Linked DNA regions of Homo sapiens. The protein of the gene in region 1 purifies or fractionates together with the protein of each later gene. This does not show direct contact. Each region holds a gene or a part of one and is shown in the gene's direction. Other genes may lie near its edges. The genes, in order: ALG6 and UNC5B.

Region 1 (3,814 bases):
AGGCATTGTTTCAAACAAGGTGGTAAAGGGAGGGGTTCAGAGAAGAGGTTGAGGATGTAGGGCATTTCACTGTTTGGTGATGAATTGTAAGTACTTTGAGGTTAGGAGCTGAGTTATAATCATCTTTGTATTCCTTTCAGAGCAGTGCTTATATGTAGTAAGTTTTTTTAAGAGACAAGGTCTCACTTAGTCACCCAGGCTGGAGCAAAGTGACATGGTCATAGCTCACTGCAGCCTCGGACTCCTGGGCTCAAGTGAGCCTCCCACTTCAGCCTCCCAAGTAACAAGTACCCCAGGCGTGCGTCACCATGCCAGGCTAATTTGTAAATTTTTTGTGGAGGTGGTGTCTTGCTATATTCTCTAGGCTGGTCTTGAATTCCTGGGCTCAAGTGATCCTCCCACCTTGGCCTCCAAAAGTGCCAGGATTACAGTTGTGAGCCCCTGCGCCGGCTGTAATACATTTTTTGTCAATGCTTGTGTTTGGTAAATAAATATTGAATGCATAAATGGGAAAGAATTAAACCAGAAAGAGAAAACAGTATTTATTGAGCACCTTCAATGAGCTTGCTATTAATATGCGTCCATTCTCAAGCAGTGAAATGGAAAGTCCTCTAGTAATTTCTTTCTTTGAGATGGAGTCTTGCTCTGTCACCAGGCTGGAGTGCAGTGGCACGATCTCGGCTCACTGCAACCTCCGACTCCCTGGTTCAAGCAATTCTCCTGCCTCAGCCTCCTGAGTAGCTGGGATTACAGGCACGCACCACCGTGTCCAGCTAATTTTTTTTTTTTTTTTTTTGTATTTTTAGTAGAGACGGGGTTTCACCATGTTGGCCAGGATGGTCTTGAACTCCTGACCTCGTGATCCGCCTGTCTCAGCCTCCCAAAGTGCTGCGATTACAGGTGTGAGCCACTGCGCCCGGCCTAGTAATTTCTTTTAGTAGTTTTCAGTTTATAATCCCAGGGTTTAAATCTCATATATTAGTTGACATAGGAAAAAGTCATCCTTCTGGGAAAGGGGGAGAATGCCCAAATCTTTATAGAGCACTTTTTAAAATAAAGAGATTCAAAATAATGATAACAATTATTCAACAACCACCATCATTAGGAAAGTTTATTGTATTTTAAAAAAGTAAACACTAGATGATACCTGCAAAGAGTTCTTTCAACTATTTAAGAATACAGGGTATTATTATTATTTCCATTTCCACTTAAGAAAATAGATTAATCATTTGCTCAAGGTCACACAGTAAATAAAGGGCAAACATGGGGACCAGGACTCAGGGCTTCACACTAGCAATGCTCCTTCTTTGAGCATTGCCACAATTGAATCCCAAAGGTACTGGAGCAGGAGTTGTGGTAAGGAGGTTACAGGGCTTAGAGCTATGACCCTAAACAACTTTTTTTTTTTTTTTTTTTTTTTGGAGATGGAGTCTCGCCCTGTCATCTCACTCTGTTGCCCAGGCTGGAGTGCAGTGGTGTGATCTCAGCTCACTGCAACCTCCTCCTCCCGGGTTCAAGCAGTTCTCCTGCTTCAGCCTCCCAAGTAGCTGGGATTACAGGCACGCACCACCAAGCCCAGCTAATTTTTTTTGTATTTTTAGTAGCGATGGGGTTTCACCATGTTGGCCAGGCTGGTCTCGAACTCCTGACCTCAAGTGATCTACCAGCCTTGGCCTACCAAAGTACTGGGATTACAGGCCTGAGCCACTGTGCCTGGCCCCTAAACAATTCTTTGATAAAGCCAGTGGTTCTGTTTATTGGCATTGTGCTTCCTGTTCCTATACTATTTCCCTTTTTATGTAGCTCTTCCTACTAATTTCTTCCTCCTTTTAATTTTATTATTATCAATTTGTTTTCCTTTATCCTCTTGTCTCTCTTGTCCTCTCCAGTGGCATGATGATGTTGTCTGCCATATCTTTAGTTTTAACTTAGCGGAGTAATATGTAACATGAAAGAACATAAAAGAGATGTTTGAAAACAATACTGGGAATTCATATTTACCAAGTACTACGAAATATGTGACAAAGCCTTCTCAGATTTGTTTATCTGATCCTTTTCTTAAGCTACTTGTTTGTATGATAGAGAAAAAAAGTTCCATTAACGGCATACTGGAAGCAGCAGTTTTCCAATTATTATGAGGAGTTGACACCTCTGTGCCTGTGTCTAGGCTAATTTAGTCTGGACTGTTAACAAAATGAATCAGTAGTCCATATGAAGACCTTCCTGGCTGTTTTTAAGCTACCGCTGAAAATCAGACAGATAAAATGTATTTATATTTTTTACAATTAGGAGTTGAAGTTATATTCTGTAATATTAAAATATTTTTTTCTTTACGATTTTAGACCAGTCTGCTTAGTTTTAAGTGAAATTCCTTTTATGTCTACTTGGTTTTTACTTGTGTCAACATTTAGGTAAGTCATATCAATTTCCATATATTTTCAGTATAATTCTTGTAAACTAATTTAAAACTTTTTTATGAAGTGGTTATGGTTTGAATTGATAATTCTCTTGTGATTTTTAAAAATTTTCCTTTACAGTATGCTACCTCTTCTATTGAAGGATGAACTCCTAATGCCCTCTGTTGTGACAACAATGGCATTTTTTATAGCTTGTGTAACTTCCTTTTCAATATTTGAAAAGACTTCTGAAGAAGAACTGCAGTTGAAATCCTTTTCCATTTCTGTGAGGAAATATCTTCCATGTTTTACATTTCTTTCCAGAATTATACAATATTTGGTAAGTTCAATTTTTAAGAAATGACACATTTTTCAGCATGTCACTATTTTAAAAAATTATTGAAGTAGTGATTTTCTTTTATACCTTTTTGAGATATAATTCACATAAATCCACTCATTTAAAGTATACAACTTAGTGGTTTTAAGTATGTAAACAGATTTGCACAACTATCACCATCATCTAATTTTACATTATTTTGTCACTCCCAGAAGAAATTCTGTACCCATTAGCATTCATTCCCAATTCTATTCTCACTCCTAACTCCCTTCCTTGGACAGCCAGTTTCTGCCTCTTTAGATTTGCCTACTTTGGACATTGCATATAAATGGAATGTATTAGTCTGTGATAGCTGCCATAACAAAATACAACAGAAATTTATTTTCTTACAGTTCTAGAGACTAAAAGTTCAAGATCAAGATCAAGGTTCTACCATCAGGGTTGGTTTCTGGTGAGGCCTCTCTTCCTGGCTTGTAGAAGGTCTCTGCTTTATGTGTCACACATGGAGAGAGACCTCTGTTGTCTCTTCCTTTTCTTGTAAGGACACCAGTACTACTGGATTAGGGCCCCATTCTTATCATCTAATTTAACCTTATTTACCTCCTAAAAGGCTATATCTCCAAATAACAGTCACATTGGGGGTTAGGGCTTCAACATATGAATTTTAATTCAGTCCATAACATGGGATAATAAAATTGTGGTCTTTATGACTCGGTTCTTTCACTTAGTGTGTGTGTGTGTGTGTGTGTGTGTGTGTGTGTATTTATTTATTTTTTTGAGACAGAGTCTTGCTCTGTCACTCAGGCTAGAGTGCAGTGGCATGATCTTGTCTCACTGCAACCTCTGCCTCCTGGATTCAAGCAATTCTCCTGCCTCAGCCTCCCTAGTAGCTGGAACTACAGGCATGCGCCACCATGCCCAGCTAAATTTTGTATTTTTAGTAGAGATGGGATTTCAGTATGTCGGCCAAGCTGTTCTTGAACTCCTGACCTCATGATCTGCCGGCCTTGGCCTCCCAAAGTGCTGGGATTACAGGCATGAGCCACTGCGCCCAGTCACTTAGCATATTTTTGAGGTTCAT
Region 2 (3,814 bases), on another chromosome or scaffold:
TCTTATCCACCCACCCCTCTGCCATGAGACTCATAACAGACTGAGGCAGGCGAGGCTCTCTCTGCAAAGAGGGATCTTTACTGGGGGTGTCCAAGCTCCCCTCAAGTGGCAGGCACCTCTCTCTCCTTTTCCCCACCCCACCCCATCCCTGGTGAATATGGGAATGAGCTCCCTTTACAGCACTGAGAATATTTTTAAGCTGTAAAGTCTGATGCTGGAGAAATCAAAACTGGAACCATAAAACCCCAGACCCTTAGAAGGTAATGTCAGCAAGTGACTAGCCAGAAAAGGCCACTTCAAAAGCTCTGGTTGGCCCTGGAAATCTCCTCCCACCCCACCTTTCAGCCCTTCCTGGAGCTTTTAATGAGCCTTTCCATGGCCTCTGGCTGGGATGGTTGAGAAGGAGTCGAGGTGTCAAGATAATACTTCTTTTTAAGGTGCAATTAAAATCAGAGTTTTTGTAGTGTCTCTGCTTGGTGTGTGTGTGTGTGTGTGTGTGTGTGTGTGTGTGTGCTCGCGTGCATGCGCCTGTGCACACACAATGATAGCCTGTCCTTGTCTCCCTCTGCACTCACTGTAGCAAACACCCATCTCACTTAAACAAATGGAAAATCAAGTGTCTTAATGGGTTTTCTCATTAAAGTGAAAGTACCACTGCAGGGGAGGAATTTCTCCTGTAATCTCTCTCCTCCACCTCTCTCCCCTCCCCCACAAACAGGGAATTCTGTAGGATAAAACAGTTCCCCTCTTTTCCAATCCATTTATTTAACTGTTGACACTTTGGGACAGGCCAACTTGCCCAAGGTCACACTGGGACTCACCGGTAGCGCCAGGACTTGAACTGAGGCCTCACAACCTCAATCTAGTGCTTCTAGCTCCTTCATTCCATCTGGGCTGGAGACCCACCATCATGGGTGTGGGCTTGAGACTCTGAAATTGAGGCACCACTTAAGGCAGGCAGCTAAAGATAAGATCGCTTTGATGGCTGCTTTAGACTGGAACTCATGGCAGGATGGAGGAAAGAGGTTGAGAGTTGGAAGGGTGAAGAGGTGTTCCAGGAGAGGGGGAACAGGGCAGAGCCAAAGGTCAGGAGTGAAGCTCTGAGACCAGGCAAGTGCCCAAAGGTGGCTCCCCCAACCCCCAGCATTGGCCTCCTGAGCAACTGCCCTGACCTGGGGAAGGGAGACAGGTCACAAGCCAAGCTCCCTTGGGCTGCATGGCCAAATAAACATTAGCATTTTATAGCTCTGCACCCATTTGTAGAGTTGGGGACAGAATATGTTTTTACTTTTTACTTATATTCAAAGCTTTAGGAGCCAGTGCCCTCCCCCACCTTTGTTGTTGAGTTTCTCCTGGACCGCAGGTCTAGTGACCCTTTTCCTGGGTGTCAGGCTTAAGACGAGGTCTGCCTCCTACGCCCCATTCCCTGAGCCACAGAGGTTTTCTAAGGAGGTTTGTGGGCTGCCTAAGACTTTGGGGATGGGCTGGGGGGAGATGGATCATTTCCATTCCAAGTGCTCTCGGACCAGGTTAGTGATTCTGAATAGACAGTGCTGGTACCTCCCTCCCCCAGGGCCTGCAGGCAGCCCGTCTTTTGACCCTCAGAGTTGGGGTTGGGTGGAAAGGAGACAGTTTGGAGGCCACTGCCGCCTTCAGGAAAGGGCAGAGGGGGCTGGGTCATAGGCTGGGACTTGGGGGTGGGAGCCTGGGCCCAGGGAAACTGCTGCCTGGGCAGATGGCCCCCAGAGGGTAGGGAGGAGAAAGCCGGCGCTCAGGCCAGAGCTGGCGCTTCTCTTGGCGTCCTCCTCCTTCTCCTCCTCACCAGTTTCCTAAACAGCTTCCACAAATAGAGTCATTAAAGCTGTGAAGGCAAAATGAAACCAAACAAGTGCGTTCTGTGCTTTTCTGTTTCTTATTTTTTTAAGGAAATTAAAAATACCGTAATTAGAATAATACAAGGAGAGAACACTTTGCGGAAGGCCTAGGGTAAGGGCACTTCCCACCCACTGGGTTGGCTCAAGAGGTTGGGACTGGGGCGCCACCTCCCGCCCCCTTAGGGTCTGCGATCCGCCGGGGGCGCCGCGGGCTTTTCCGCCGGCTCCATGCATTTCCCTGAGGCAGGATCTTTTTGGGGGAAGCTGGCATCCCGGCGCTGGCCTCGGCCCCCGACTGGGAGTTGGGTGGCGCTTGATTGGAACTCCGGCCCGGAGCCGCCTCAGCCGCTGCGCCCCCGCGGGCAGACAAGCCCGGGCGGAGCGCGCTAAGCCACAGGTCCCCGCGGCGTTCCTCCCGGTCTTCGGGGATGCTAATGGCAGCGAAAATATTTGCTGAAGTGCAGGCATAAATCAGCCGCCTCCCCGCTCCCCCACCCCCACCCCTTTTGTTTCCTCTTCCTTCTCTCCAAAAGCGCTGGGCTGCTGGGCGCCAGAATTTACCTTTTCCATCTTAGCGGCCTGATTAGCATCGCCGCCGCTTGTGGGGCTGGATTCTACCCTCTCCTGCGTCCCCCACCCCCAGTCCCCATCTCCACCTCCCTCCCCAGCCGAGCTAAATCGGTCTGCGGAGCCCCGGGAGCTCTAACGCCACCGCCTAGCGAGTGAGTGCACGGAGCCGCCCTCCTTCTCACCTCCCAGAACAGGCTGCCCCCAGTGCTTGCAACTTACCCCTTCGCGGCGCTGCACGGCTCGGCTCACTTCTCCAAGAAGGCAGGCTTGTGGGTGTGAGAGTATGTATTAAGGAGTGTGTGGGGGGTGAGAATGTGTATTAAGCAGGTGGGCGGAGGTGGGAGTTTGCAGGGAGGGGAGGGTGGGTGTGGTGTTGCACTGGGGTGTCAGGTGTGTGTGGGGGCGAGGCATGGACTGGGTGTGTGCCGGAGGATGGATGTGTGTTTGAGGAGGGTTGTGCCTTTTGTAACTCAGGAGGTGTGATGTATAGGCTGTGTCTGTGTTTGGGTGTGTGTGGGGTGGGCAATGTCACATGGGCACACTTGTGGTGTGTTTGTGTATAAATAGGTATGTGTAATGTGGAGACAGTGAGTCACCACCAGGCATGGGAAGCTCCATCCATTGTATTCCGTTGGGGATTCCACTTCAGGATGGGACCCAGGCCATTTGCCCATCAGCACTTAAGAGACCTCATTTTGCCCCACACCTGCACTGTGAGCAGGGTTTGGCCTGAGTGCCAGGTTCTGCTGTTGGAAGGGCAGAGGACAGCTTCCCCTGCTGAGTGCAGATGGGATAGGCCTGCCTGCAGGTGGGTCCTGGTGCTCCAGGGGGAGGAAGGTTGGCAGAGATGGACCCTAAGCCAGCCCAGCAGCTTGGGCTACTGCCCCCAGGAAGATCAGAGTCCCAGACCTGGAGTCTTCTGCAGTCAACTCCCAGCTTCCCCAGAGCATGGGAGCGGCTGTGGTTTGGAGATCTGCTCTCTGACCTGGGTCAGCTTATGCTTCAGCCTGTCTCCCCCAAAGGGAGTGAGTTCTCCTCTAGAGTTTGCTGGAGAAGGGGCCAGCAGAGCTTGAGTGGGTGGGATCCCCAGTGGAGAACCCCATCTCAGGCTGACGTGGCTGGGGCCTGGGACTCTCAGCGGTAGCAATTTAAAGAGGACAGACACACCCACACACATGCTGGACTCCACTGTCGTTACAACTTTCTTGGTCACAGAAGCGCTTACCTGCTTTCCCAGGGCTGTCCACAGGAAGGACTTCCATCACTTCAACTCTAGGATAAGATGGACTGTTCTGGAGCAGGGAGGCCTATAGGAAAATCACAGTCCCTCGCCCCACCCTGGTGTGCATGTTGCTTTACAGTTTACAAAA

What was found.
Region 2: the proteins of ALG6 (region 1) and UNC5B fractionate together in Homo sapiens (co-fractionation; one large-scale study listed by BioGRID). This does not show direct contact.

Annotation. Positions count from the first base shown.
Region 1 is NC_000001.11:63,426,391-63,430,204, forward strand, and holds part of ALG6 (dolichyl pyrophosphate Man9GlcNAc2 alpha-1,3-glucosyltransferase), read left to right. Parts: intron 1-2,342; coding exon 2,343-2,411; intron 2,412-2,537; coding exon 2,538-2,736; intron 2,737-3,814.
Region 2 is NC_000010.11:71,215,331-71,219,144, forward strand, and holds part of UNC5B (netrin receptor UNC5B isoform 1 precursor), read left to right. Parts: intron 1-1,893; exon of another isoform or gene 1,894-2,305; intron 2,306-2,663; exon of another isoform or gene 2,664-2,898; intron 2,899-3,814. UniProt on the Homo sapiens protein: Receptor for netrin required for axon guidance. Mediates axon repulsion of neuronal growth cones in the developing nervous system upon ligand binding.